4 linked regions of the Homo sapiens genome follow. The protein of the gene in region 1 interacts with the protein of each later gene in a pairwise test. Each region holds a gene or a part of one and is shown in the gene's direction. Other genes may lie near its edges.

Region 1 (7,847 bases):
AATTCAACTTGACTTGAGAAATAGTCACTCATTTTATAGCAGCTATACTTCTTAGAATAAGAATATCTAGGTTTTTAGTTTAAAAAAGTATTAAGAAATACCTTTGGAAAAGATGGGCCTCAAGTTGTTAATAAAAAAAGAAAATGCTTAAACAGTTCGCAATATTATGTATTCAGATTTCTTTGGAAGATTATAAAATATGGTACCATTTGTTTTTCAAAGTGGGACAGGTGGCCACTTTGTCTCATGTATGAGATACTGTTATGTGTGCAATAATTCAAGAGCAAAGTAGATCTAGAACACAGATCTCTTTAATCGTAGGGCGAAGTGCTACAAAGACAATTTACCTCAGACACAATTAAGCAACCACCTAGTATAATCTGTATTTTAAGTCCTTTATTTAATAGCATTTGAAAATAATTCTCTTTATAATATTTTGTTTATGAAGCGTCACCCTAGACTTTTATATTTCATAAATGTAAAAAGTACATCTCTTTTTTTAGCTGAAAAAGTTCTGAACTATGTTTCTATAATCACTTCTTCCAATGAAACTGCCACACTGCTATTAGTTATGTTTCCTGAAGATATATATATCTTATTTCTTCACTTGAATTCTTAAAATCCTTTCTTGGCCCCTTATTTCAGGCAGAGCAAAGTGCCGACTTTCTTGTATGACATATAAAGAGGCTTCTCAGTCTGGTGCCCACTTACCATATAAGACTTATTTGTTACACCTCACATTCAGTACCTTGCTTTCCACTCAGGTAGAGCTGCTTCTGTTTTCTGAATATTTAGGGGATCTCTTGCTCTCAAAACTGCATATAGTTTTCCTTCTGTTTGCTGTGTCCATCCCCTTCTTAGACAGAAGAAGTCATGCTTAGTTTTCAATATACAACTCAAAATGTTAGATGCCTGTGAAAGCTTCTCTAGTTGTTACTGTCCCCTGGCTGAAATAGTTATTCTTCCTCTGTTTTCTCATACTGTTCTATTGAACTCTTAAGGAATGTAAAACATAAGAGTCAATATAGCAAAATATCAAAAGCATATATTTAATCCAACTAAGCTGTTTTTTTAAATCAATGAAACTGAGATAATAGAACTCACTTCTGTAGGGTTGCAGTAGAATAAGTAATCAATGCACACCCCACTTAGTAAAGTGCCTAACACACGATAAGTGTTCAGTAATTGCCATCTACCTGTATGTGAATAGATGTTTATTTGTATTTATTCTCAGTGAGTTTGTGAGTTTCTCAAGGAAGGTAACTATATTTTAAGTTATCCATAATTCCAAACACAAATCTTAGGACATAATAAGTAAACTATTTATTTTGTTGATGAATGAGTGAAGGAATTATCTTAGCTATATCAAGATGTGGTAGAGCAAGACAACATGGAGTTGAATCTTGATTTCTCTCCTTCCTTGCTATGTGACTTGGACAATTTAATTAACCTCTCTATATTAGTTTTCTTGTTTGTAAATAGGATAACAGTACTAACCTCATAAGGTCTTTATGAAGATTGAATATGTTAATACAGGCATACTGCTAGAGTAGAGCCAAATTTCTTCTATTACTACTGTTATAATTATCTATTGTCATTATCCATTCTAGCAAATAATTTGTGAAACTGAATTATTTTTCCATCATTTGCGTCTCTCAGAAAGACACTCTTTCTAAAGCCACCTTGTGAGTTTCATTCTGATCATAGACATACTGCTCTTCTGAGTTTTTCTATTTACACATACTTTAAATGGACTGGTCTTATAGAAGTAGTAATAGTAGTAGTAATAATAATATGAAAATATATAAACTAGCAAACATTTACTGTGTGACTGCTTTGTGCCAGGTAATATTCTAACCAGTTTCTACATGTTAACTCATTTAGGCTCACAGTAATCCTCAAACGTAGATATTATGATTTACCCCCATTTCATGCACGAGGACACCGAAACTTAGTAGCTTGTTAAAGGTTACACAACATTGTAATTAGCTGAGCTGGGATTTAAATCCAAACAGTTTACTTTCATAGTATACATTTTTTCTATTATATTTTTGTGCATTTAGGTATGGATGTGGTAAACTTTCAGTTTAACTATTATAAATGACTTCCATTGTTCTACTTCTAATTACTTTTACTATTTCATAGTATATAGACTATATCTATATATACAGAAATATATATTACAGATACAAATATATAAATAGTACATGTAGATCATGTTATCAAATAGTCTTTTCTTATTATCATTTACTTACTTATTCCACAAGTTTTATTGAGTACCCCGTTTGTCCCAAGTATTGTGCTTATATATTAAGAATATATCAGTGATCAGGATAGGTCTGACAAAAGGAACTTTCTGCTTTCCTGGTGTTTTCACTCTGAAGAAGGGGTGTTTGCATATGATGATATTAAATAATTAATTTTGTACTGTGTTAGTTTGTTCTCATGTTGGTAATAAAGACATACCCAGTACTGGGTAATTTATAAAGGCGGGACATTTAATTGACTCACAGTTCCACATGGCTGGAGTAGGGGGCTCACAATCATGGCAGAAAGCAAGGGGGAAGCAAGACACATCTTACATGGAAGCAGGCAAGAGAGAGCTTGTGCAGGAAAACCCCCATTTATAAAACCATCAGATATCATGAGCCTTATTCACTACCATGAAAACAGTATGGGGGAACTGCCCCTATGATTCAATTATCTTCACCTGGCCCCGCCCTTGACACATGGGGATTATTACAATTCAAGATGAGATTTGGATGGGGACACAGCCAAACCATATCATATACTAAGTAATTTCTTTATAGTTATAAATATTTTGAAGGAAAAATATTGGATATTATGAGCATGGGATACACCATCTAATTTGGAGGTTGAAAGATGGCTTTCCTGGGAAAATCTTAGTTTTGTAAATATTTATATTCATGGGTACTAAGGATTGTAAGGGTAAATGAATATACACATACATACATGGACAATCACCTATTTAGGAATACTTAAGAATGATCCAACTGTGAATGATTGTATCGGGAAGACCACATTTGTGGCATCTGTTCTTTTTATGGGAAATTACCCTTTGTTGTCTAGGTTAGCATATTTTAAGTGACTGTTATAGAGAAGTATTTTCTCTTTTGGAGATCTAAAGATGTACGTTCTCTTAGTACATATAAGAGTAAGAATGAAGAGATTTAACAAGGTACTTTCCTTCCACTTCCTCTTTGTGAAAACAAACCTATAAATGCCTGTCATTGTATAGTTAGGAGTTAAGCTGTATTCTTGATTGGCTGAACTGACTATTAAGTTTCATTTTCCCTCAAAAAAAGTTTTCTAAATAATGAGTTTAGAATAACTGTTCACACTTGACTGAAGGTTGGTATTTTTGGAATAAATGCTTTTGGGGGTAGAGATCACACAAGTTCATTAGTACTAAACTTCAAATACCCAAGCTTTTATGGTCAAACATGAAAAATTGGCCAGCATTTTCAATGTTGCTTCCATAGAAAACTGTATTCTATGTTAGAAGCATTATTTATACTCCAAATGCACTTTATGAAATACATGATATTTCTAAGTTGGATATATGTTATCAAACCCAGTTATTTCTACAGTTTGGAAGCTTTTGTTTGGAAGCTTTTGTGCATCTTTTTTCTTTTTTTCTTTTTTCGAGACAGAGTCTCGCTCTGTCACCCAGGGTAGAGTACAGTGGCGTGATCTTAGCTCACTGCAACCTCTGCCTCCTGGGTTCAAGTGATTCTCCTGCCTCAGCCTCCTGAGTAGCTGAGATTACAGGTGCGTGCCACTACGTCTGGCTAATTTTTGTATTTTTAGTAAAGATGGGGTTTCACCATGTTGGTCAGGCTTGTCTCGAACTCCTGACCTCGTGATCTGCCTGCCTCGGCCTCCCAAAATGCTGGGATTACAGGCGTGAGCCACTGCGACATCTTACAGTGATCAAATTTGTCCACTTTAGAAGGGACAATGATTCTATTACTTGCTGTAGGGAAATTAGTCTTGTTCCAAACCCTGCTGATAATGACTGTTTTCCTTATCATATTCCTACATATGTGTCTCTTACAACCCTTCAAGAGAAGAATGAAATCTTACAGTAGGAAGAAATAACATATTCTTCTCGTTGCTTGCACTTATCCTCTGTTTTCTTCTTCTGTTGCACTACATTAGAGAATTCTTTTGAGTCAGTGACAGAGTGATGAGGATAGACTGAACCAATTATTTGACTTGATTTTATATCTTCTTACTGGAATTTATACTAGATTGTTTTATGCTTACTTAAAATGTTGGATATTCTTAGGGACGTATACAGCTCAATCTTATTTTAACTGCTGGTTTTTTTCTTTTGAGTGCTTCATTGTTCGTTATGGCAATTTATATTCTTAGAAATTGGTAGTGGACCTGTACGTATGTACCCGGTACAAGGAGATGCTCAGTAATATTTTTTAATGAGTTACTCTAAACCATGTTTTGGGTGCATATGTATGTGTGCATGCATCTATTTGCATATGGACATACACTGACCAGTCTATATTATTAAACTGTGCTGGTATTTGATATAGTTTTCCTGTTTTTACCATTTCCATATCATGTACCATGTTGCATAATAGTTAAGATTTTGTAGTGTTTTGTGAACATTTAGTTTCTTAGATTTCTGCATTTCATTCGCTCCCACTTTTTCCCATTATAAAGGGAATGTTGTACAAAGATACATTGTATGATATTCTGAACATTCATTTTAAGAGAATAAACTTTGGAAAGTATAGCTTTCATGGACCTTATTTTATGACATTGAAGATTGCATCTTATGACTTGGACTGTTTAATTTACAATTGTGTACATCTGTGTGGGTGATGGATATTTCTGGTGAGTGTGAAATATATATGCAATGTGTTATTCCATGTTTACTTCTGCAGGAAAATTTCAACCTAAATATTACTGCATGTAATTTTTAATATGCAAAAATTCAGTTAAATAAGGTATTGGTGTGAGTGACTGTTTTCCTATGAGAGGTGAGTGTACATTAGATAACTCATATTTTTATCTTTGGCTTGGGACTCAGGCAATAGAAATGAGGTTGATATTGTACCCATGTTCTTCTTGTCATATGTGTTGGCATGGATTTTTGGTTTGTTGAGAACAGATATTTTAATGTATTTGCTTAATTTTTAGGAGTTTAGGCATATAACCCAAAATAAAATTCTTTGAGAAATGACAGGAAGATTTTCTTTTCACATCAAATGTCTATTAATTACTTTTTAAACAGTGGTAAAATCACTCTAAAATGTTAGAATTTTCATATACTAAAAGCAAATCCTAGCACAGCAATTCATTTGAGCAAATTCCAAGAAAACATTTTTCTCAGTTACATTCAGGTTATTTTCCAAATTGCAAAAATAGGACTTTCCTCAAATTCTGAATTCTAATCATCTTGAGAAAAGAAATATATTTGAAACCTAAATTCAGAACACACTTGCTTGTTAGCAAGAAAGTCATGCCAAAGATAATAGTAGTTAAAATCTTGTGGAAGGCAGATGGTTGTTGTAAGACAGATTTTTCAGTTTGGATTTTAAATTTAAGTATGATATTTGCTTTCTTTCTGGAAATACCAGAAAGTTTGCTTTATTTCATCTGCTACATGAATAGATGACAAAAAAGAAAAAAATTACAGGCTGACAAACACTGAATAATTAGGATGTGTTAATTTTTCTTAGAGACCCATTTATTTCACAATGTCTAAAATAACGTTAGGCAAATACCTTCTATCTTATATTGCATGTGCTGTTATTTTCTCTTACTTTCTTCAGACATCTCGTGGGGAATTTGACTCCAGTGAATTTGAAGTTAGGAGACGATATCAAGATTTCCTTTGGTTGAAGGGAAAACTGGAAGAAGCACACCCCACTCTGATTATTCCAGTAAGTTTGCAAAATTTTTTTTTTCATAGAATAGCTACCAGTTTTCTAGTGAGTCTTTTTGAATGCCTAAAACCTAATTTCAGACCTTAAGTTCACTGTAATTCATTTATCTTAGGAATAATATTTATTTCTAAGTGTTTCAATCAATGTACATTTTTTTTTTAAAAAAAACTCTTCATAATGTGTTATGATTTCTCATTTTTGGTTCTAACATTGTGAATTTTTAAAAATTATTTTTATAAGAAATGATCAGATGTTCAACTAGTCTTCCAAACAGGGAAAGCGTAGAATTGCTTATAAACCTATGGCTAATAATACTTGAATACCTTTTTAATTTTTTTTGCCTTAGCCATTGCCAGAAAAGTTTATAGTAAAAGGAATGGTGGAACGCTTTAACGATGACTTCATTGAGACACGCAGGAAGGCTTTACATAAATTTTTGAACCGAATTGCTGATCATCCAACTTTAACATTTAATGAAGACTTCAAAATTTTTCTCACTGCACAAGCTTGGGTAAATGATTTTTATTTATACTCATATAATCTTTGGGTGTCTGTATCTATAGTAGATTGTATTGTTCCTCTTGTTTACCGTTACAAATCATGCAGTGGTGTACTTGAATTGAGATGGAATTTTTCAGAAACACTGGAGAGTTATCCTTCAGATATAACCCTGTGTCAAATCTACATATAAATATTACAGAAATCTTGTATCTTCTCCATATATATACACACACACACACACACACACACTCTCTCTCTCTCTCTCTCTCTCTCTCTCTAATGTTTTTATGTCAGGGTGCTTCTTGCATAAATAGCAAATACTGAACAGGTATAAATATATTTCTTTCATTGACACTGTAGTTGACCCTTGAACAACATGGCGGTTAGGGAAGCCAACCCCTTATGAAATTGAAAATCCATGTGTAACTTTTAATTTCTCAGAAACTTAACTACTAGTAGCCTCCTGTTGATTGGAAGCCTTAACTGTAACATAAACAGTTGGTTAACACATATGTATACCTTTTGTGTATTATATACTGTATTTTTTGCAATAAAGTAACCTAGAGAAAAGAAAATGTTATTTAAGAAAATCCTAAGGAAGACAAAATATACCAACAGTATTCTACTGTATTTATTGATACCAAGTTTATGTTGTCTGTTTACAAGATGAATTGTCAGTCTGAAATGGAGGGCAATGACAGTGGCAGACCTCAGTCTATGGTACTTAGCAAGCAATTCAACTTTTTTTGTAATGACATGACTTTTCTCTGCTTCTTGGGAACATTTCCAGCATCACTAGTGGCACTTCATATGGGTCCCATGGTATTATTTCAGGTTTATAGTATTGCACTAAACACAATAAAAAAAATACATGGGAACCACAAGAGATCACTTTTTACTGCTACACCCAATTTAATGGAGAGATGAACTACTCACATGGAGATGATCAGCGTCACATGGCATTTTAAGCAGATATTCACAACACTGGAGCTCACCACAAATAGCAACAGGAGGGCTACAAAAATAGTACAATAGTACAGTGTGTAGTGTAGTTAATTTTAAGCAGTTTTGATTTAATACTGCATCTTTATGTTTGTTTACATTTCTCTCAACTGCATATGGTGGCATGTAAGTCAAAATATGTGCATACGTTTTGATAAATTTTAACTTTTTATAATAGATTTATACACATTTTAGGGTAGTAAATGATAGACTAGTATCCACATACATTTTGTGGATTCATGACATACCTTTCTCTCAGTTTTTTCTACATTTCTGGACTATGTGGTTTGTGAGGTTTTTTTAGTTGTCACAAATCTCCAAAAAATTTTCCAGTATATTTATTGAAAAAAGTCCACATGTGTGGACCTGCTTAGCTCACACCTGTGTTGTTCAAGGGTCTACTTTATTTTG
Region 2 (7,847 bases), on another chromosome or scaffold:
CCATTGAGCACTGAGTGAACCAGACTCTGTCTGCAATCCCGGCACCTCGGGAGGCCGAGGCTGGCGGATCACTCGCGGTTAGGAGCTGGAGACCAGCCCGGCCAACACAGCGAAACCCCGTCTCCACCAAAAAAGTACGAAAACCAGTCAGGCGTGGCGGCGCGCGCCTGTAATCGCAGGCACTCGGCAGGCTGAGGCAGGAGAATCAGGCAGGGAGGTTGCAGTGAGCCAAGATGGCAGCAGTACAGTCCAGCTTCTGCTCGGCATCAGAGGGAGACCGTGGAAAGAGAGGGAGAGGGAGACCATGGGCCGTGGGGAGAGGGAGAGGGAGAGGGAGCGGGAGAGGGAGAGGGAGACTAAACTAAAATTTTTCTAAGCGAGGCCCATCTTTTTTCTTTGCTAGTAAAATTAGTCAGTACTTATCCATGTTCAAGTTTGTCATGGCTTAGAAAAAAAGATTAAGCAAGGTCAAAAGGCAACATAAAGAACTTAAGAAAGTAGTGCTCTTCCCACCTTCCCAAGGGCTGAGTAGGACTTACTGGGCCAGGTGTTAAATTAGTTAGCAGGTAACAATTAAAGGAGCTGGAAAATAATTATCATAAAATAATATAAAATTGGAAGTAATTCTTCTCAAGAGCTAGGTATTGAAAGGCAGTGGCCTTAAGAACTCAACAAGTAGGGTAGCTTTTACTGTCTAAAAACTTTAGGCTGGGTGTGGTGGCTCATGCCTGTAGTCCCAGCACTTTGGGAGGCTGAGGCAGGCGGATCCCTTGAGGTCAGGAGTTTGAGACCAGCCTAGCCAACATGGCAAAATTCCATCTCTCCAAAAAATGCAAAAATTAGCCAGGTGTGGTGGTGCACACTTGTAGTCCCAGCTACTCAGGAGGCTGAGGCGGGAGTATCACTTGAGCCCAGGTGGTCGAGGCTGCAGTGAGCCATGTTCATGCCACTGGATTCAAGCATGGGCAACAGAGTGAGACACTGTCTCAACAACCCAAAACACAAAAACTTTATATAGATAGCCTTGCTTAAGAATTTCTAATTTTGGCCAGGCTCCGTGGCTCACGCCTGTAATCCCAGCACTTTGAGAGGCTAAGGGTGGCCGGATCACCTGAGGTCAGGAGTTTGAGACCAGCCTGGCCAACATAGTGAAACCCTGTCGCTACTAAAAATACAAAAATTAGCTGGGTGTGGTAGTGGGCACCTGTAATCCCAGCTACTCTGGAGGCTGAGGTAGGAGAATTGCTTGAACCTGGGAGCGGAGGTTGCAGTGAGCTGAGATCGTGCCACTGCATTCCAGCCTGGGTGGCAAAGCGAGACTCTGTCTCAAAAAAAAAAAAAAAAAAAAAGGAATTTCCAATTTTAATTAAGGAGATACACTGAAGGTTATCAATACGTAATTATGCATAGAAAGTAGACTTTTTATACTTCCCAATTAATTTCCTATGTAGTTTTTATATCACTTTATATAAAAAAACTGAAAATTACTCTGTTAGTAACTAATTTGTTTTATGAATGATACATAATTTGAAGCATAATTGTAATTTAAATGTTTATTTGAAACATTAGCTTACTAATAAAAAAAATTGAGACATATTTAAAAACACCCAATTTAGTTGGGTTAATCCACTGTAACTGTTTGATTGCAGATGTTTTCCCACACTGATGGGCAGCTAACTGAGGTAGTGCTATCCAGTACAGTCAACTTTCAATTATCTGTGGTAATGGGAAATGACAATGCATGGATAATCCTAAAACAAAATATTTTATACAGTACCTTCCTGTCATCTGCTGTGGCCTGAGCATGTGCTTGGGTTCATGAGGGAGATGTGGGAGTGGGGCTCAGGCTTGCAAAGGAGCTGGGAGTCAGTATGATTATCTCAAGGCCATAAGAGGTATCCTTAAGGAACCTGGGTTTGGCACTGTGTGGCTGAAGTGTCATGGGGAAAGCCTGCAGCATGCAAGATCAGCTTGGCAATATCAGTGAGAAGGATGGGGAAGCTAATTAATAAGGAACTGTGGGAGAATAGTTGTTTATTAAGTCCTATACAATTGCAGTGATATATCTTGGTGTGTTTTTTGGTTAATGGGATCTGTAGCAAACAATAATTATATTAATTGTGTATTTGAATTAGTTTTGGTCATCTTTGATTGCTAGCAGAACACATTTTTTACTTGCCACAGGTGAGTGCTGTTATTGAGGTCTCTTCTAAATAAGTAGGTTTATTGTCATATAACTAGTAACTTAAAAAACCCAGAATAAATTTGAAATACTTTTCTTACTTTTAAAATTCATCCTAAATATCAGTGTTGAACTTGTACTTCCAAAATTTAACTTAATGAAATTTAACATTGTAATGTCAAAGAATATCATGAGGGCAAATGCCATAATTACTGATACTGTGAATTTGATGTAGGAAAAATATAGTAGCCATATTTTATTTAAGAATATGTTACAGGAGCTTTCCTAAATTTCTTTTACAACTGACAATTGTCTACGAATTTATGAATGTTAAAGCTGCATGATAGATGTGAGGAGGGAGTGTTTATTATTCTATCTAATTTGAATATGCTTATTTTCTACAAGTGAAAGCTATAAAAAAATTGAAGCAGATGATTGCTGAAAACCTTAGAATCTTCTGGACCAACCTGAGAATCTTCTGCTTGTTTATGAAATAGATTTAGTGCTCTCTGTCAAATTATTCAAACTCCAAATAGAACCGTAGCCATTTTCTAAAGGCATGTTTTCTTCTGCCCACAGGCAATACTGCAGTTCAACCCCGTGTGGTAGTATGATGGCAAGAATGCAAATTATACCGTTGTTAGATTACCTTTATTATTATAGATGTTTTTTAAAAGTTATTTACTTAAAATATCTATACTTAGGCAAATTAGAGGCGTTGATCTTGAGTCGACTTTTGTGACCAAATTTGGAAACAATTGCAGTTTGAGATTGAATGAGGTAAGGGACCAGCTAATTAGTCCTTCCTCTATAGATCTTTGGTTCTCAACCAGGGAAGTTTTGCCCCCAAGGGGACATTTGGCAATGTTAGACATTTTTGGTTGTCACATCTCATGGTGGGGGAGTGCTACAGTTATCTACCTGGATGCTTTTCTATATTCTGCAATCCTCAAGACAGCAGCCTTCACCCCTGCCCACAACAAAGAATTATCAAGCCCAAAATGTCAATAGTGCCACTGTTGAGTTACCCTGCCCCTAGTGTTTCTAAGATGTAGGCATTCTTTGAAGTAGACAATTAAAAACATCATATAGCCAAACTAAATTATTTTGACTTTCTGTATACTTATGCTGTTTAAAAAACATGCCTTCAGTTTTTACTGAGATTTGATATAAAAAGCAACAACAAATATATTTTTAAAGAATTTAATCCTGGGAAACATTTCACTTTCCTGATGAATTGATATATTTCCTCGTAACTCATTATGTTTCTATTTTGCCTTCTCTCCCTGGAGGCTTAGTGCCAATTTTTTTGCTCTATTATAACAATGACCCTTTATTTTAGGCTTATTGTTATCTTTCTATTTACTGTATTGGTCTTCCCTTTTTTTTTTTTTTTTTTTACTGTTATGGTCTATGGGTTTGGGCTAAGTGTGTGTTTGTGTGTATATGAAGAGAACATGTGGGTAATATGTAAATGTCCCCAATCCCTAGACCAAGTCACATCTCTATAAGATCAAATGAACAGATTTCTAATTTATATTTTAATGCTTTTTTAAAGTCTCAATTTTTCAAACAAGAAATATGTGCTTGTTATAAAATATTACTGTGTGTTAGTGTAAATAATAAGTGGAAGATTACTTCTCCCTGTTCATTCTCTGGAGATTTATTAATATTTCTAGTATGTGCCAGGCATAGTGGCTCATGCCTATAATCCCAGCACTTTGGGAGACTGAGGCAGGAGCATTGTTTGAGGTCAGGAGTTCAAGACCATCCTGGGCAACACAGTGACATCCCATCTCTACAAAAAATAAAATTAGCTGGGCATGGTGGTACATGCCTGTAGTCCTAGCTACTCAGGAGGCTGAGGTAAGAGGATGCTTGAGCCTAGGAGTTCAAGACTACAGTATGCTATGATTGTCCCATTGCACTCCAGCCTCTGTGACAGAGTGAGAACCTGTTGCAAAAAAATGTATATTTATAGTATGCAGATGTGAAATAGAAGCTATAAGCTTGTAATTCTGTTATGGCTGCTCAGGTTTACACTCTTATAGTTTCATTTCTGAATAAGTTAAGTACATTTCTAAAAACTGAGGAGAATAAAAACAATGTCTTGAGGATTGTGTTATCTGATGAACCTTTTATTGATCTGACGAAGACCCATTTTATAAAAAAAGTGTCATATTTTATTTTTTGAAGCATACTTGATGGTATGAAATGGTATTTCTAGCCCATACTTTTAATGATTTAGAATGACTCACTAAACTTTATTCAAGGCCAGTACATTGGCTTACTCCTGTAATCCCAGCACTTTGGGAGGCCAAGGTGGGTGGATCACTTGAGCTTAGGAGTTCAAGACCTGCCTGGGCAACATGGAAAAACCCCAACTCTACAGACAGTAGAGAAATTAGGCCAGCATGGTGGAACACGCCTGTAGTCCCAGCTCCTTAGGAAGCTCAGGCGGGAGAATCATTTCAGCCTGAGAGGTCGAGGATGCAGTGAGCCATGATCGGGCCAGTCCACTCCAGCCTGGGCGACAGAGTGAGATACTGTCTCATAAAAATAAAATTTAATCCAAATGTGATTAATTTCCATTTCTCTAAAGTTAAAAATTAAGTGAATTCCAATATCATCACTAATATGCAAGCTTAACTTTTCTGTTACAGTTTTCCCAAGCAGTTGAAGAGGAAAGCTATTCTCATAATTAGCCTAACATGCGTAGAAAAGTTTAGAGATTATTTTTTTTCTTTTTCTTTTTCTTTTCTTTTCTTTTTTTTTTTTAAGATGGAGTCTCGCTCTGTTGCCCAGGCTGGAGTGCAGTGGCACAATCTCGGCTCATTGCAAGCTCTGCCTCCTGGGTTCACGCCATTCTCCTGCCTCAGCCCCCCAAGTAGCTGGGACTACAGGCACCCGCCACCATGCCCGGCTAATTTTTGTATTTTTAGTAGAGACGGGGTTTCACCGTGTTAGCCAGGATGGTCTCGATCTCCGGACTTTGTGATCCGCCCACCTTGGCCTCCCAAAGTGCTGGGATTATAGGCGTGAGCCACCATGCCTGGCTGAGATTGTTTTTTTCTTGAATACTTAAAATTGTAAGATTACTACCATGGTTAGTTTTTTATTTGATGTTCCATTTATACATTCGTTAGCTCTGGAACATATAGATCCTGTTGTTTTTAAGGTCTCTTGGTTGTAGAGAAATAAGAGGCTTTGAATTTGTTTCAGGCTTACCTCATACTTGAGGCAGTTTAGAAGGATAAATGATCAGTGTTCAGATTTCTTAAAGCAGTATTTTATAATGTCATGATGATTATCTTTTCACTGTTACTACCAGGTTCTTTTAGAAAGGGGAAATTGAAGTAGGACATTGAAGTGGGACTGGGGAGGAGTTAGCAAAAAATGTGTCTGTTGATTGCTGCTTGAGCCAGGAATTGGTGGTAAGAGATGTGAACCATTTTAGTGAAGTGATTTTTCAAACTCTTTTGACTGCGACACACAGGAAAAAATTTTTTTTACGTTGTATTCAGCACATAATTCATGTATATATTTATATATATAATAAACAGACTTTTCAAGAAACAGTATTTTACCTTACTATGTGTACATGCAGTCTGATGTTTCTGTTCTATTTGATTTGAAATAATTGCTGCTTACATACCACTAAATTGCAGCTTGCAGTTTAAAAAATTTTGCTTTAGTGTACTAATTACCTGTGTATGTGGAGAAATTCACCCTCTGTTAGCAAATAGAAGATTGTAATTACAATACATTCTTACTCGTATGTCTTATGTGAGCATTTAATAAATATAAATAAATTAATGAAATATTTTACAGGCATTTTGTCATGATAAAATATAAGCAGCTTTGCCCAAGCAACTTGGTCTTTTGGGGTCAAAAAATGGCTTTTTTGTTTTTTGACACAGGGTCTTGCTCTGTCACCCAGGCTAGAGTGCAGTGGTGCATTCATGGCTCACTGCAGCTTTGACCTCCTGGACTCAAGCAGTTCTCTTATTTCAGCCTCTCAGTTAGCTGGGATTACAGGCATGTGCTGTCATACCCAGCTACTTTTTGTAGAGACGGGGTTTCGCCATGTTGCCCAGGCTGGTCATGAACTCCTGGGATCAAGCAATCTGCCCACCTTGGCCTCCCAAAGTGCTTGGATTACGGGCCTGAGCCACTGTGCCTGGCTTTATTTTTAACATTATATTTCAGCCCTCTTTCTTTTTAAATAAAAAGATGTTTAAACATGAATAGAAATTATACTAATAGGTCATTAGAAATGTAACTAGATTAATTTCGGGGGCTTTCTTAATCACTATATTAGTCTAAATCTTAATGGAGAGGGAAAAATTAGCATGCTTTAACCCAGGGGTTGGCAAACCTTTTCTGTAAAGGAGCCAGCTAATATATACTTCAGTTTTTGTGGGCCATACCATCTCTGTTGTGGCTCATCTCTGCCATTACAGTGTAAAGCCTAGACAGATAAGCAAGTGAGCGGCATGGCTGTATTCCAATAAAACTTTACTTATGGAAAAGCAAATTTGAATTTTATATAATTTTCACGTGAAGGTTTTTTTTGGTTGTTCTTTTCTCCAAACATTAAAAAATGTAAACACCACTCTTAGCTTGTGGGCTGTAAAAATCAGATGATGGGCCAGATTTGGCCTGTGGGCCATGGTTTACCAGCCCTTGCTTTAACCTAAAAATGGAGAAAATCAGTAGTCCAGAAGAATAAAAATTTAGCAAGCATAGTTTAGAATATGAGTAGCAATATTAAATCTCTAGGCATATATATTTTGATTTTTGTGGATATTAGAACTATACATTTTTGTGTTGTTTTTTACATTATATTTTGCAGACAGTTGATATTCATAAAGAGAAAGTTGCAAGAAGAGAAATTGGTATTTTGACTACCAATAAAAACACTTCAAGGACACATAAGATTATTGCTCCAGCCAACCTTGAACGACCAGTTCGTTATATTAGAAAACCTATTGACTATACAATTCTAGATGATATTGGACATGGAGTAAAGGTAGGTATAATTTTTTTCAAGCTTTTAAAAGTAGTAACCCATAATGAAACCAACTCTTGAGAAAATTAAGCTTTTTATCTGTCTTTCTTTCCTAGAGGACAAAGTCTTGGCCCAGTTGTGGTTGTGAAGATTCCTTGCTACTATAACTGTTTTACCCTTTTTGCTTTTTCTTAGTGATGTATTCTCAAGTTTTAAACAGTCATCTTTGAATGAATTATATTTGCTTGGTTATGATAATACCTCCTATGGTTTGAGTAAATAAGTGTCGTGTAATCTTTCCAATTTTAATTTAATATGACTGATTAAAAAATCATTCATCATGTTATTATGAAAGTGTTTACCTTATCTCAAGTATTTATCAGCAGACTTTTGGCATTAGTTTTCAAAAACAAGATATATTAATAGACATGTACTTTGAATTTTTCTAAAATAATTTTATCCCAACATTTTGGGCAAGAATAGTGTTAGGTAAAAGTGATAGGTGAATTAATATTGCCACTGCTTTTGAGTGTGTAGCTATTACATATTTTGGCTGTCTTTTAAGATGTATTTGGGTGCCTAGAACATGCAAATTTCATTTAAATTGGTGTTTGAACTTAATGATTCAGAGCTTTAGCTGAGTATTAATTTATG
Region 3 (7,953 bases), on another chromosome or scaffold:
AGAGCTCTTTTTATGTTAGAGATGTTAAGTCTTTATCTGTTACATATGTTGAAAAAATCTTTTTTTAGTCTGTGGTTTGTCTTTCAACCTTGCTTATAGTGCCACTCAGAAGAGTTATTTTTTATGCAGTAAAACTTACTGTTTTCCCTTTTTGATTTGGGTTTCCAGATCATATTTAGATCTTGCCAACTAGGTAAAATTAAAAAAAAAAAACTACTACGTCTTAGTATATTAATAAAGCTATAAGATATTCACACCTATTTTTAATAGAAATTTTATGATTGGATTTAATTTTTGATTAATGTAGAATTTATTTTGGTATATGAAATGAGAGGTAAGGATCTAGTTTTTTTTTTTAACAAATGGCTCTAAAGTCATTTCAACACTTTTTCTTGAATAATTCTTTGCCCCACTGATTTCAATAATTTCTATGTATATTTGGGTCTGTTTCTGGACTCTATTCTGTTCATTTATCTGTCTGCACTATTACCACACAATTTTATTTGCAATAGTTTTAATATCTGGAAGAACAAGCTCCTCTTCCTCCCTCCATTAATGATTTTGTTTTTAGAATTTTCCTGACTGTAATTGCATGTTTATTCTGGAAGTCTTTCTCTTCTTTTAACAGGGCGTAATGCTACTTTATTAACTAATTTGTGTTCTTGGTTGCTAACTGTCTTTTAATCCACTCTATTGATGAGAGTTTTAATAGGCTCTCATTAGAGTCCAAGCTGTTCAACCATCTTATGTACCATGTATTTCACCATTTCTGTAACATTTTGTTAAAGGGTAGGACAGAAAACTTATAGCTTATGTTAGGAGGGTAAAGGAAGATAATCCACAGCATGTTGAGTGCTACTTAATGGCATTTTACTGCTCACTCTTGCTTATCCACCTCAATATGTACCTGCTTCTTTTATCTGCTCTCCTTTTCTCTCTCTTTTACTTTTTTCTTCTGTTTCTTTTAATTTTCATTTACTTGTAACATCTAGGAAGGCCATCTGGATAAAAACAAACAAAAAAAAATTTGAAGATATCCATGTATTATCAGGGTTTTCACCCTTTCCGTACATTTTCCTTTATTCACTGGCCCTTTCAGTGCACTGGCGTCAGCTCAGTAGCCCTAACTTTGGAGTCATATTTACAACTGGTATTCATCAATAGAATCATGTGATTCCTATATGCCTTATATAATGCTGAATAGTATAATATCCATTCTACCGCAGACGTTATTAATCATTAAGAACTCTAAGATGCATGTGAAAGGGCTGCTTGTAGTCTTGAGAGCTGAGTTCTAATTATCACCTTACTTGTTCATCTGTTCATCCATGAACAAAGAAGCTATGGTGGAACCAGGGGTTTAGGTGGGATAATGGAAGTAGGAAGTTTGTCAACCAGGAAATGGGAAATGATAATGGGAACTAACATTTGTTAAGTGACTACTACTATATGCCAGCCACCCATTGTTCTAGATGCTTTATGTGCATTATTCTATTGAACCAGAAGCCTAGAATTACTTTTATTCCCATTGTACATATGAGGAAATTGAGGTGCTAAGATTGTTTTAATATATACGTATTTTTTTAAATAGAGGCTGGGCACGGTGGCTCACACCTGTAATCCCAGCACTTTGGGAGGCTGAGGCGGATGGATCACCTGAGGTCAGGAGTTCGAAACCAGCCTGACTAACATGGTGAAACCCCATCTCTACTAAAAATACCATAATTGTCTGGGCTTTGTGGCGGGTGCCTGTAATCCCAGCTACTTAGGAGGCTGAGGCAGGATAATCTCTTGAACCCAGGAGGCAGAGGTTGCAGTGAGCTGAGATCGCACCATTGCACTCCAGCCTGGGTGACAGAGCGAGACTCCATTTCAAAAAATAAATAAATAAATAAAATTAGAGATGTGGTCTCATTGTTTTGCCCAGGCTGGTCTCAAACTCCTGGGCTGAAGTGATCCTCCCACCCTGGCCTCCCAAAGTGCTGGGATTACAGGTGTGAGCCACTGCACTAAGCCTCTTTTTAAATTTTAATTATTATTATTATCTTTTTTTGTATGGAGACAAGGTCTCACTATGTTGCCCAGGCTGGTCTTGAACTCCTGGGCTCAAGGATTCCTTCTGCCTCAGCTTCCCAAAGTGTTGGGATTACAGGTGTGAATCACCATGCCCAATTTAGATGCTAAGATTCTTAAAGCTGGCTCAAGGCCACACAGTATATGGTGCATGGAGAGTCAGTCAACTGTGGCATACTCCACTGCTCCTTTTCACCAGAATTCTTTCCCTAATATGGCAATCGAGGGTTATGAAATAAAGACATACCAAACTGCAGGATGCAAAAGAAGAGGAATTAATAGCAGTACTTTCTGTTTTCCCATTTTTCTTCATTGTACTATGCAATCTAGATACAATTTTGAAGAGGGAAAATAAATTACTTTTAGTAACCTCATCTTGTCCACGAGATCTAATGACTGATTCTGAGACTTTCAGGATCAGGAAGGAACTCTGTTAATGTTCCCAGAAACTGGAGCCACAATCTCTCTTCTTTATCCTGTTAGCCAGCTCCATATCTGGCCTGAGGTGCACAAGGCTTAAAAGAGGGGTATATAGGAAGAAGTGGGAGGCTTATTAATGTTTTGATTCTGTGTTTGTCTACAAATCTGGAGGCATCATGTTTTCACACTGTTATCTCTGAGTGGAGATTAGCATCATGCTTAGATTTAGCTGGAATCAAATTTTTACTTACATATTCCACCCCTCAAGCCATTTGGTTTGGAGATGGGTGGGACATGCGAGCTTGCTGTGAGACTGCAGGGGAGTCTCCTAGTTTCCTAATGATTGGACAAAGGCAGGGCAACAGAAACGTCTTGGAACTAAAAGGCTTTTTTTATTTTTATTTTTTATTTTTATTTATTTTATTTTCATTTTTTTTGAGACGGAGTTTCGCTCTTGTTGCCCAGGCTGAAGTGCAATGGTGCCATCTTGGCTCACCGCAACCTCCGCCTCCCAGGTTCAAGAGATTCTCCTGCCTCAGCCTCCCGAGTAGCTGGTTACAGACATGTGTCACCACGCCTGGCTAATTTTGTAATTTTTTAGTAGAGACGGAGTTTCTTCATGTTGGGCAGGCCGGTCTCCAACTCCCGACCTCAGGTGATCCGCCTGCGTCAGCCTCCCAAAGTGCTGGGATTACAGGCGTGAGCCACCGCGCTGGGCCTGTTTATTTATTTATTTTTTGAGACGGAGTTTCGCTCTTGTTGCCCAGGCTGGAGTGCAATGGCGCGATCTCGGCTCACCGCAACCTCTGCCTCCCGGGTTCAAGCGATTCTCCTGCCTCAGCCTCCCGAGTAGCTGGTTACAGGCATGCGCCAGCACATCCAGCCAATTTTGTATTTTTTTTTTTAGTAGAGACGGGGTTTTGCCATGTCGGTCAGGCCGGTCTCCAACTCCCGACCTCAGGTGATCTACCCGCCTCGGCCTCCGAAAGTGTTGGGATTACAGGCGTGAGCCACCGTGCTCGGCCTATTTATTTATTTATTTTTTGAGACGGAGTTTTGCTCTTGTTGCCCAGGCTGGAGTGCAATGTCTCGGCTCACCACAACCTCTGCCTCCCGGGTTCAAGCGATTCTCCCTCCTGCCTCAACCTCCCAAGTAGCTGGCATTATAGGCATGCACCACCACGCCCAGCTAATTTTGTGTTTTTAGTAGAGACGGGGTTTCTCCATGTTTGTCAGGCTGGTCTGGAGCACCCGATCTCAGGTGATCCGCCTGCCTTGGCCTCCCAAAGTGTTGGGATTACAGGCGTGAGCCACTGCCCCCGACTTATTTTTTATTTTTAAGAGACATGATCTCGCTGTCTCCCAGGCTGGAGTGCAGTGGTGGGATCATGGCTTATTGGACCTAAACTCTCAGGCTCAAATGATCCTTCCACCTCAGCCTCCCAAGTAGCTGGAACTACAGGCGTGTGCCACCACACCTGGATTTTTTTTTTTTTTTTTTGGTTCAGGTGCAGTCTGGCTTGTTGATCAGGCTGGCCTCGACTAGTCTCCTCAGCTTCTAATATTTCTGCTATTTCTGACCTTTGCCACTCTTGCATAACCAGTGATCAACAATGTCTACTTGCTTTATTTCTTTTTCTGTTCTTTTTTTTGTGTGTGTGAAGTCCTGCTCTCCTTTTGGTAATCCTGGCCATCTGCACTTTTCCCTCAATTCATTGTCTTATGCTTTCAGAATTACATCATATTTGCTTACTCTCAGTTATTCTCACCCTGAACTCACCAAGTGACTGACTCTCTGAACTGCATCCCCAGGATCTAAGGTCTAGACTGGGTCGCAAGGCTTAGGCTCCGTGACACAGCGTAAAGGCCAAGTGGGAGTGGCTTTAGTGGCCTAGCGTGACACCGCTAGCGTCGCTAGGGGGCGGAGTTTTCTGAACGTCCTCGTGCGCTGTGGACGGAGGTTGTGGAGAGAGCAGGGCGGCATTGGTGGCTGCGGCTGAGGTGAGTGGTTTAGTGGGCAGGAAGGGGTAGAATAGGCTTCAAGCACAAGTTAGTTGGGTAGTTTATAACTAGCAAGAATATATTATAGCCATTAGGCCAAAACTTTTTAGAGCGGCCCTAAGGCAGTGACTTTGTACTACAGAACTGCTCGTCGCTCTCAAGGCGAACGAAGATGGGCAAATGTAATGTTTTTGGACGAGGATTGAGGAGTATGGGGAGCGGTGGTGGGCCACTGAAAACCGGAGATAGTAGTTACTGTAGTTTAGATGCTAAAGGACCTAAATTACGTTGAAGCGGGACTGTTGATGACCGTTGGGGGCAATGTAATGTTTTTTGATGAGGATGGAGGAGTATGGGGAGTTGTGGTGGGCCACTGAAAACCGGAGATAGTAGTTATTGTTGTTTAGATGCTGAAGGACCTAAATTACGTTGAAGCAGGACTGTTCATGACCGTTGGGGGCAGGATACTGAAGGTGCTAGCGTTCTCACAGAGCGGGAAAAAGGACCGTGAGTGATTGGATGCTTTGAATGTGCGGTTGGTAGCGGAAGCGGATTTTGAGCCAATTAGGAAGAAGCAGCGAGACCCAGCCAGACCAATAACAGGGTACCACTCAGCTCCATTTCCCCCGTTGCCAGGCAGACTTATGGTAAGAAAAGGTCCCTTTTATGTAACTTGGCAGCCTGGCCCTGCCCCTCACAAAAGCCCTTTCATGGGCTTTTAACTTTACTCAGCCTTTTTTTCTCCCTTTGGATAACAAGTAACGGGAAACATTTCACTGGAAAGAAATTTGTTGAGAAACTAGAGGATAAAACAGAGTATTAAAATATGTTATTATTTCACAGGCTTGAGCCAGAGATTTAAAAATGGACAATGATGATTTTTTTTCCATGGACTTTAAAGGTACGTAGCTCTACGTGGTAGTACAAAATAGTGTCAAACTGCTGCTTTAAGATCTAAATATTGCTGGGCGCGGTGGCTCACGCCTGTAATCTCAGCACTTTGGGAGGCCGAGGCGGGCGGATCACGAGGTCAGGGGCTCGAGACCAGCCTGACCAACATGGTGAAACCGCGTCTCTACTAAACATACAAAAATTAGTTGGGCGTGGTAATCCCAGCTACTCAGGAGGCTGAGGCAAGAGAATCGCTTGAACCTGGGAGGCAGAGTTTGCAGTGAGCAGAGACTGCGCCACTGCGCTCCAGCCTGGGCGACAGAGTGAGACTCCGTCTCAAAAAAAAAAAAAAAAATCTAAATATTTTGTTTCTGAGTTTTGTCTTTCTGCAGTGTCCATAGCACCAGGTTTTCTCATTTATGTACCAGAAACAATGTCTATTTTTAACACATTGGGAACCTTTTTATGAACTAGTGTAGGGAGACAGAATTCACAATTCATAACTTGTTTTTTTTTCAGGATTTTTATGGCATGCAAAATAAAACGTTTAATCTGGAAGATAAATCTATTGCAATAAAAATAAGTTTAAAAAATTACTGCAAGATCTTGGAGTTCCTTTCCATAATCATCCGTGAAAAATAAATTATATCCTGTGTAGTTTTAGACTTAAGTACATTTTATTGTGTCTTAATTCTTTTGAAAATTGGTAATCCATGTTTGCTATTTATGGGAACTCTCAATAAACAAAAGCAATTTGACTGACCAGAACACCAGATTCCTCAACTGTGCTAGATATAGGAGAGTTTGTGGTACTATCTTTGTTTTTGGGGAATAATGAGACCTGTGGTACCTTCACATTCATATAATAATGAAATATGTGGTAAGAAATGTGGCTACAAATCTATGATTTTAAAAAGTTTAGGTCAACATTTTGTTAATACTTTTTTTTGTTTGCTTGTTTTGTTTGTTTGTTTGTTGAGACAGTTTTGCTCTTGTTGCCCAGGCTGGAGTGCAGTGGTGCCATCTTGGCTCACTGCAACCTCTGCCTCCTGAGTTCAAGCGATTCTTCTGCCTCAGCCTCCCAAGTAGCTGGGACTACAGGCCCGCGCCACCATGCCTGGCTAATTTTTTGCATTTAGTAGAGACAGGGTTTCACCATGTCGGTCAAGCTGGTCTCGAACTCCTGACTTCAGTTGATACACCTGCCTCGGCCTCCCAAAGTGCTGGGATTACAGGTGTGAGCCACCATGCCAGGCCAATATTTGTTATTTTAAAACAATAACAATAAAGCCTGCTACTATCTACTTTAAGTTTTAAATTAGGATAAAATATCTTAAAGGTATAAAGATGGAATAGGGATTATGACTCTTAAGTTGATAATATTTGAGACTTTGTATTTACATAAATATTTGAATCACACAGAAAAGTATAGAAAATAATATAATGAACATCTGTGTACCTACCACTGAGTTTTGTCAAATCTTAAGCTTGCCATATGCTTCAGATATTTCAAAGAACTAAAAGATTACATGTACCATTTTTCTTTTTAAATTTTATATAAATAGTTATTTTATATTTCTTTTTCCTGCAGCTTGTCTTCTTTTTTCCTTTTTTTGCTCAGCATTGTGATATATATATATATATATATATATATATATATATATATATATATTTTTTTTTTTTTTTTTTTTTTTTTTTTTTTTTTTTTTGAGACAGAGTTTTGCTCTTGTTGCCCAAGCTGGAGTGCAATGGTGTGACCTCGGCTCACTGCAACCTCTGCCTTCCAGGTTCAAGCGATTCTCCTGCCTCAGCCTCTCGAGTAGCTGGGATTACAGGCACGTGCCACCATGCCCGGCTAATTTTTTGTATTTTTAGTAGAAACGGGGTTTCACCATGTTGGCCAGGCTGGTCTCAAACTCCTGACCTCAGGTGATCTGCCTGCCTCAGCCTCCCAAAGTCTTAGGATTACAGGCGTGAGTCACTGTGCCAGGCTGTGTTTTTAATATTTACCCATATGAATACTTTTAGTTCATTTATTTCCACTGCTGATGAGTAGTATTTCATTGAACCTAAATGTACCACAATTTATTCATTCAGTCTCCTTTGTTGGACATAAAAATGGTTTCAAATATTTGCTGTTAAAAACAACAATGCTACAACGAACACTGTGTTTCTGAGAGTTTAACAGAAACTTTCAAAAACATCTTTGACTACCACTCATGGCAAGAAAATGTTTTGATTACATCCCAGTACATACATACTGTGTCAAAAGTTTAATAAAACAAAATTTTATCCTCATTACATGCAGTACACTATGATATTTTCTATTCTATTTTTCTCATTAAAAAAATGCTGGGTATTCAGCAAAGGTCTGACTGAAAAGAAATGCTGGGTATGACTCACTACCTCAATACATTGACTGATTTTTTTTTTCTTTTGAGACAGAGTCTCACTCTGTCGTCCAGGCTGGAGTGTAGTGGCACGATCTCGGCTCACTGCAACTTCCACGCCTCCCGGGTTCAAGCAATTCTTCCGACTCAGCCTCCCGCGTAGCTGGGGCTACAGGTG
Region 4 (8,170 bases), on another chromosome or scaffold:
CTGCACATGCACAGCTACTCTAGTGCCCACTGGGAGACTCTGCTCATTCTCTTCACTCCCAGATTTAAGTTGCAGGGAAAATGCATTATTTTTTCATTAAACATTTATTTTGGAATGGATAGCCTTCAGAGATGTAATTAGCCATGTTATTTCTCTCCATTAGCAGTCCCTGGCATTTGCTGGAGTTTCTTGTCCTTTTTCCTCTCCATTTCACTCTTTCCATCATCTTTATAATCTAGGTTGCAATACTTCCCCACCCCCACCTCCAACCAGCACCACATAGTCTGTTTTTAGACTGAATAACTATTTTAAAACCTGGAGAGGGAGTTATAGCAAACTCCCCCCCCTCCCCACTGGGCTGTAGGATTACAGTCCCCTGAGCCAGCTAGGAGCTCCACGATGCCCACCACTGCCAACAGGAAGGGGGAGGCAGCTCCACGTGACACTGTGACGGCCTGGCTAGTGGCAAAGCTAGGCAGAGCTAGGAAGGTTGTTGGCTCCCCATGTTCTGGCTGGATGATCCCAGGTAAGTTACTTAACCTTTCTGAGCTTCTGTTGACTTCATAGTGTTCAAGGCTGGCACTCACTTAGGTAAAGCACTTCACCGGAGGTATATAGCAAGTGCCCAGTAAAAGGCAGCTGTGGTGGGGAGGTCCACAGGCAAGAGGGAGACTTGGGGACTAAATGAACAGGAGACATGGGTAGCAGGAAAGGCATAGCCTGGGCTTGGTGAGTCCGAGCTACCTGCTTTGGTGGTGACCCAGGAGCCTGGGCTGGGGGACAGGTGACAGGTAGAACCATGAGGAAGACCCCTCACGGAGCAGGACTGGGTGGAAAGAGTAGTCAGGAGCTCTGCCTCAGCTGCCCATGGCTGAGTGTCCCTCTTTTGTCCAGAGTTGCTCCTATGGGTTATTTCTGGAATGCAAGAGAGCTACCTAGGAGGTGGGCTCCCCAAGACCTTAGAGATGGCCCAAAGTGCAGTAACTCCTTAGCCCTCCAACTAGGTTAGGGGATTTCTAGGGTGACTGGGCTGGTTATTGCTCTGGGGAATCCAACTACCTTGGTGCTCAGAAGGGAGCTGTCTCCACCACTCCCCGTCCCTGCTATCCTCACGCTAGTGACACATGACGTGCAGCCATCTCCAGCATTGTCAGAAATGCCATGCTCCATGGAGTTGAGGGCAGAAAGCCTGAAGCCAAAAATCTAAACTTACCCTGGTCCTCCACAAAGAGGGGTAAAGAGAAAAGTGCAGCTTTGGCATGGAAGATCCTTGGCATTTTGCAATGAAATAAAATCAGAATGCGTGTGATTTCTATCAAGATCTAGAGTGCCGCAGACTGAGACAGTCATGGGTAGGTATCCTTTGAAGGGGTTGATACTTGTTAACAGGGATACAGTTGCATGGCATTTCACAAAGTTGTGTCTTGTTGCATTGACATGAAGGGAACTGGAGTGAACCTGCTTTTTAATACTGGCCTTACCTGCTTTTATAGTAATCCTGGTCCCCTAGGTCCCCAGAGACATGCAGAGAAGTGGAAATTGGCTCAGAGGGTCTTTGAACTTGTACATGGATGTCACTACAAGCCTCATGGAAGCAGGCAGCATTTTGATGTGAGTCTAGTTCACAGAAGTAAATTTTCATAGTGATTTTTGTGGACAAGTCCTAGGCATTAGTAATAATACTGGCGATGCTGAAGATAATAATAACTACCACACATTGGGTGCCTCCTGCGCTCCAGGGCCATGCTTCAATTACCTTCAGTTCTGTAAAGCATTACCATCCTCATGGCACATGTGGAGATGCCGAGACTCGGGCAGGGTAGAGAAGATTCGCACTGTGTAGAGGACGGCAAACAGCACAACAATGCCCGCCACCAGGAGCAGCAGAACCAGGATGTCAGCCCACTCCATGGTTTATAGGTGTCGCCACGAAAGACACGACTCACACAGGCACTAGATGGAACAACACTTTACTCACACAGAGAAGAGACAGAGTAAGATCAGCTGCAATCATGGGTTCAGTCCCGCATGGCCAGGGGTCTCCTGCTACAGCAGACACAAGGTGACGGTCTGCACACACCCCTCTTGTGCAGCAGCGGGTGGACCCTGTTTCCTCCCCACCTGGAACAGATATAACAGTGGGGTTGGCCAGGTGCCTGCCACATGACGCACAAGCTTAAGCAGAACAAAGAGTACACGCTGAGTCTGAAACAGGAAAAAGATATTCCCACGTAAGGCGATAAGCCCAGCACAAGCTATGAGAGCTCCTTATCTGTTGGTAAGGAAGTGTTTTTGGCTCAAGGCCACTTGTATGGGGCTGAGCAGAGGTTAAAAAACCACATGCATGAGACTGCCTTTCTCAACCTAGGTCATATCATTGGTGTGCAGCAGAGCCAGGATTTGAACCGGGTCTTTTTGGCACCAAAGCCTATGAGCTTTCTCATTGATGAGAGGTCTTCCCCAGGCCACTCCAAGTCTCCTCTCCCTCCTCATGCCAGCCACATCAGCTAATGGACAGCCAGATTCAGCAGAGAAAAATGAACTGAGTGGGTTTCTCCCTCCTTGGACTTCTTTAATGCAAACACCTAAAATAATATTTTCCCTGAAGAATCCTCACGTATAGAAGTTTAAAGCAGAAAGCTGGATTCCCATCAGAGATGAGAAAATGCATAACAGAAAAGCAATATATGGGAAACCAAGGCACTTGGGCAATTATGTAAATAAATGGACATGGTAAGGATCATTCAGCCCTGGAAAAAAATGGACACATGTAATTCCCTTTCAGAATCTGAAAAAAGAAGAAAGAGGGATGGAATAAAAGCCCTTTTTGCTTCCGTTACAGAGTCCTGCAGTTCTGTTTGAATATTAAGCCTCCATGTGGTTGCTATGGGGCTTTTGTAATATGACTAAACTGTATTGGCTCATTTGGGGAAGGGTTATCACCTACAATTCACAGATAGGATGCCAGAGGTTAAAAGAAGTTCAGTAGTTGATCTATGTTCACCATGTTCGTTTTAGAAGCCAGGTTGAATTGAGCCCTCAGATGTTTCCAATTCCCGACCTGATCCTCATCTTCTCAAGGAACAATTGCAGTGAATCCTCAGTTGCCTACGTGGTTAATGTGGAAGAACAGAGACATAGATAATCCTAAATGATGTCTATGTCTCTTGCTCTAAACATTTGCTTTGGAAACTTCTTGCAGACCTTAGAATGAAGCCACCCTAATGTGCAAGGGGCCCCATCCTTACTCCACACCTTCCCTACTCAACGTTGCCCACCTCCCACTCCATGAAGACCTAGGGGCAGTAGATCAAAGGGAAGAGGCTCTTAACTCTCTCCTAGGTTGAGCTAGGGTAGTGGGTAGAGGAGAGAGGCCGATAATAAGGCATTTTGATTTAAAAGGCCTTCTGCAGTGCCGCAGGCAAGCAGAACAGAAACAGTAAATGAGACAATGAATTGTGTCCGTGGAAGACTCCATATGGACAGTGATTCATTATGTTAATAAGGAGGTGAAAGCCAGAGGTTGACTGTATTCTGATTTCATGTCTGGGGAATCTGTAGCTCAGAAGCGGGGAGCATCCAAATTTGAGGTCAGAGTCCAAATTCCAACACCCAGCTCCTGATTCCAATTTGGTTGGTCGAATTACTATCATCTCCTAATGACTAAGGATGCTTTAGAGCCAGATGGGACCTGAGTAGAAGTGCAAGCAATGCTTAAGGTGGAGAAGAGTGATGCTGGAGCCAAGCAGAGCCAACTCCTTGGGTCCATGCAACAAATATTGAGCACCTACCAAGTGCCAAGTGATGGCAGAACTGGCATTGGGAGAGGGAACCACAGAGGAATCTGATGTTGACCCTGGCCTAAAGGAACTCAGGGTAGGAGGTGATATGGGGCAGGCACAAATCTCTGTCATACATACAGAGAGGGAAGTGAGATGAGGTCTAAGACAGCTTCATTTATTCTCCCATTCAATTAAATCATTAACTCAGCTACTCAGGCACGATCGTAAGTGCTCCAAATAAAAAGCTAAACAAAACTGATCTCCACCCCAGAAGCTACCATTCCAATGCTGAAGCTAAGTCACCCCAGGAGGCATATCAAAACACATTCCCCAGCCCCCCAGGCCCCAGCACTGACATACTGATTCTGAATCTTTATAACTGGTACCCAAGACATCTGAAGCCTGGTTTCTAGTTATTCTCCAACTTTGGGCACTGGTCTGGTGGAATAGGGAGGGAGTCCAGCTAAGAGAGTCCAGAGGAAGAGTCAGAGATAGAGAGCAAGGCTTCATGGCCCACCTCTCCCTGGAAGCCCTCCTTGACCAGCACAGCCCACACTGATCCCCATGTCCTCTGAATCCAACCTCCACTGCGTGTTCTGCAGTTTTGCATTTTTCTGTTTGTTGTTGTTTTTTGTTTTTCTTTCTTTCTTTTCTTTTCTTTCCTTTTTTTTTTTTTTTCCAAAACTAGCAGGTTTAATCCCTCTTCTCCTGCTTGTGTCTCATCTCTAAAGGTGGGTGTTCCCGTGTTCCAGGTCATTGTGATGAGAGTTCCAGGGGACTTGTGACACACTGCTGGCCGGCTCTGTTCAAGTGTGGGAGGTCAGGAGCAGCCAGTTCCTCCTGGGAATGCAACCCATCTCCGAAAAGGATTAAGCATCACTAGGGCTCCAAGTGAGTTCTGATCAGAGGCTGTTCGGAAGACAGCAGGGGCCATGACCACCCTCTCTCCTGAAAACAGCCTCTCTGCCAGACAGTCAGCCTCCTTCATCCTGGTGCGTGTTCTTTGTCAGCTCTGAGTGCCTCCCTCCCCAGCCTCTGGTTGGCACTGGGACCATTTTCCCCTGCTGGGTAGGAAAAGCTAGAACCCTGAGCTAACATAGAAGGTGGAGCAAGGGCGGTTGTACCTTACTCTTACCATCAGCCCAAGGACAGGACTGAGACATCCAAGCCCCCTTTCACCTTCTTTCCAAGCCAGCAAAACCTTCTCCACATATGTGCTATTCTAACTTTATTGAGTTGTAGGTTTGCAGGTGCGAACCTGAAGATGCTGATAGATTTTCATCGGTGCTTTTTGCCAACAATTTTGGTATACTGCCACCAGGTGGCAGTAATGCTTTTGTTAGTAGGTAGTTCTAAACCCAGTTTACAAGATACAGCTATTTGTTAGAAGTCGGCTTCAGTCATAAAAATTTTCCACACGGTATTTTTTCAAAATCATAACTAATTACAATAACTTTAGCCAATCTTAAGTCTCATTAATCATAGTGATTAAGAGAGTGATACATAAAAATGCAAAATGGACACTCCTCTCCCTGAGTTTTAAATGTTACTGCTTTATGGCAAATTATCACCAGGCCTTGCTTTAAATTTTCTTTATATCTTTCTCATTTCTCTGAGCTTAGAGAAGGCTAATAAAATAAACTGTCACATAGCATTTATTATGTACGATGAATGTTCTAAATGCTTTATTTATAGTCATTCATTCTCATCACAACTCTATGAAGTGAATAATGCTGTTGTCTTCCTTTTATAAATGAGAACATGGAGCCACAGAGACTTTGTCACTTGCCTACAGTCACACAGCTTGTTAAGTGGCAGAAGTTGTATTTCGACCCAGACAGGTGGGGTGCAAAACTCAGTATTCTCAAAGTGTGGCATCCAAACCTGCAGCATTAGCACCAACTGGGAACTTGTAAGAATGCAGACTCTTGGGCCCCAGATCTTCTGAACCAATAAACTGGAGACGAAGCCCAGAGATCTGTGTTTTTTGTAACTCATCCCTCCAGGGCACTGTGATGCACAATTAGCTTTGTGAACCACTGTTTTAAACCATTTTCTTCATCACGGTGCTGTACTGATGATACACCCTCCACACCTGGGTTGGTAATAATTGCTGAAGTGGGAACCCCTTGTTACGGTTGGGAGTCTATCTTGTCCTCAGGTGAACTGGAGTAGAAAAGAGAACCTGTCCAGGTGCAGTGGCTCACGCCTGTAATCCCAGCACTTTGGGAGGCCGAAGCGGGCAGATCACCTGAGGTCGCGAGTTCAAGACCAGCCTGGCCAATATGGCAAAACCCTGTCTCTACTAAAAAATACAAAAAATTAGCCAGGCGTGGTAGTGAGTCCCTGTAATCCCAGCTACTTAAGAGACTGAGGCAGGAGAATCACTTGAACCAGGGAGGTGGAGGTTGCAGTGAGCTGAGATTGCGCCACTGCACTCCAGCCTGGGCGACAGAGTGAGACTCCATCAAAAAAAAAAAAAAAGAAGAAGAAGAAGAAGAAAGAAGGAAGGAAGGAGGGAAGGAGGGAAGAAGGGAAGGAAGGAAGGGAGGGAGGGAGGGAGGGAGGGAAGCTTAAGCAAAGTCAATGACCTTCCCTGGGCTTTATTGGAGGTTCTGTGGCTATGAGTATTCAGAGAAACTTGGCATTAAAACCCTCATAAAAAGTTTTTCTTGTCCTCCAAAGGCTTTCTTTTTTTACTGAAAATATGGGAGAAAACCCCTAACCCAATGATGCAGTGGGGAGAGGAGATTTATGCCTGAAGCCAAGGCCTCTAGCAGCAGGAAACTTTTAGAGGGACTGAGCCACTTAGGGCTCCCACTTCTGGTCCCCTTCCCCAGGGGAAGAATGGCCAAGGCTTCCTCAGGTTTGCTGATGTAGAACTTTAACCTGCCTAGATACACCCTGAAGGTGGGAGATTTCCATAGCTGCTCTATCTAGCAGTACGCTTCCCAGGACACTAGGAAAGGCACCACTGCAGAGCTGGAGGGTATCCAGCCCCCTCGCAAACTGCAGACTTCCCCTCCCGGATTACCAGGTCATTATACCCAGTGTATGGAAAAGGGTGTTATTAGGTTGGTTGAGCAAAGAACAGAGGAATATGGGAAGATGAAGGTTGATTTGAGAAGCCACTGTGTTGACAATCTCCGTCACATTAAAGGAGCCCAGATACACATTCTCTGATTTCTAGCATAGGCAGGTAGGTGGTGTGCATGTAGAGAGAGGGCTTCTAAGTGACATTTCCCCCTTTGCCTTCTGCGGGTCAACAGCCTTCTTGTTCTGGTCCTTGGCTTGCTAGCAAGTGTCTGAGATAGTCTTGTGGGTGGCCTATAGTTTGCTGAAGTTTGGAGAGATACAGGGAACTGGTGGGTGTAGAGAAATGGAGTTTCCTAGAAGGAAGAATCAGTGACTTTTTTTGTGGGTTTTTTTTTTTTTTTTTTTTTTTTTTTTTTTTTTTTTTTTTTTTTTGAGACGGAGTCTTGCTCTGTCACCCAGGCTGGAGTGCAGTGGTGCGATCTCAGCTCACTGCAAGCTCCGCCTCCTGGGTTCACGTCATTCTCCTGCCTCAGCCTCCCAAGTAGCTGGGACCACAGGTGCCCACTACAACACCCGGGTAATTTTTGTTTTTTTTTTTTTGTATTTTTTTTAGTAGAGAAGGGGTTTCACCATGTTGGTCAGGATGGTCTCGATCTCTTGACCTCGTGATCCACCCGCCTCGGCCTCCCAAAGTGCTGGGATTACAGGCGTGAGCCACCGCGCCCGGCCGAAGCAGTGACTTTTTATAAACAAATTCAACCACGGCAAAGTAGGCAGATGGCCAATTGTTACAGGTAGAGGTTTAGAAATGCAAATTCTCTGAATACTCAACAGATGTCTTCTTGTGATGTTTCTAATTATTTCTGCCTTATTGCGTTGATGCTGTATCTTTTGTTACGGTGTGCGGTGCATATTACTTTAATTTCAATATTACCTCTCCATTGTGTTTGACTTTTTTTCGTATCTTTGTTCGTCATTTATTTTTTAATCATTGTAGGGCATTTGATTTTAAGGTATTTCTTTTGTTCACAGCTTGTGTAAGATACATATTTTTTATTTGAGTGGAAAATCCTTGCCTTTTAATTCCTTCCCACTGCCCCTCCCACCCCCAGCATGGCATTAGGGTTAAGCCTCTGACTGTTGCATCAAACAGCTTAGGGTTCAAACTCCAGCTCTGATACTTTCTGTATCTAATCTCAGATATGCTAATTAACCCTCCTGTGGTCTCAGTTCCCTGATCTGTAAAACAGTACAAGAACTTTACCACTTCATAGATATTTGCGAAGATTAAATGGGTTGATATATGTAAAGTGCTTAGAACAGTGTCTGGCACATCATCAATTGCTTTTTAA

What was found.
Region 2: the proteins of SNX7 (region 1) and ABI2 interact in binary tests that used the Homo sapiens proteins (3 or more experiments, as listed by UniProt).
Region 3: the proteins of SNX7 (region 1) and TEX11 interact in binary tests that used the Homo sapiens proteins (3 or more experiments, as listed by UniProt).
Region 4: the proteins of SNX7 (region 1) and TBC1D21 interact in binary tests that used the Homo sapiens proteins (3 or more experiments, as listed by UniProt).

Annotation. Positions count from the first base shown.
Region 1 is NC_000001.11:98,685,256-98,693,102, forward strand, and holds part of SNX7 (sorting nexin-7), read left to right. Parts: intron 1-5,819; coding exon 5,820-5,930; intron 5,931-6,279; coding exon 6,280-6,444; intron 6,445-7,847. UniProt on the Homo sapiens protein: Involved in the regulation of endocytosis and in several stages of intracellular trafficking. Together with SNX4, involved in autophagosome assembly by regulating trafficking and recycling of phospholipid scramblase ATG9A.
Region 2 is NC_000002.12:203,373,171-203,381,017, forward strand, and holds part of ABI2 (abl interactor 2), read left to right. Parts: intron 1-2,761; exon of another isoform or gene 2,762-2,845; coding exon of another isoform or gene 2,846-2,962; intron 2,963-7,037; coding exon 7,038-7,214; intron 7,215-7,847. UniProt on the Homo sapiens protein: Regulator of actin cytoskeleton dynamics underlying cell motility and adhesion. Functions as a component of the WAVE complex, which activates actin nucleating machinery Arp2/3 to drive lamellipodia formation.
Region 3 is NC_000023.11:70,905,195-70,913,147, reverse strand, and holds the start of TEX11 (testis-expressed protein 11), read left to right. Parts: upstream 1-4,436; 5' UTR 4,437-4,494; intron 4,495-5,337; 5' UTR 5,338-5,358; coding exon 5,359-5,395; intron 5,396-7,953. UniProt on the Homo sapiens protein: Regulator of crossing-over during meiosis. Involved in initiation and/or maintenance of chromosome synapsis and formation of crossovers.
Region 4 is NC_000015.10:73,868,996-73,877,165, forward strand, and holds the start of TBC1D21 (TBC1 domain family member 21), read left to right. Parts: upstream 1-4,568; 5' UTR 4,569-4,714; coding exon 4,715-4,774; intron 4,775-8,170. UniProt on the Homo sapiens protein: Acts as a GTPase-activating protein for Rab family protein(s). Essential for the establishment of male fertility, and is required for both the production of normal sperm number and sperm function.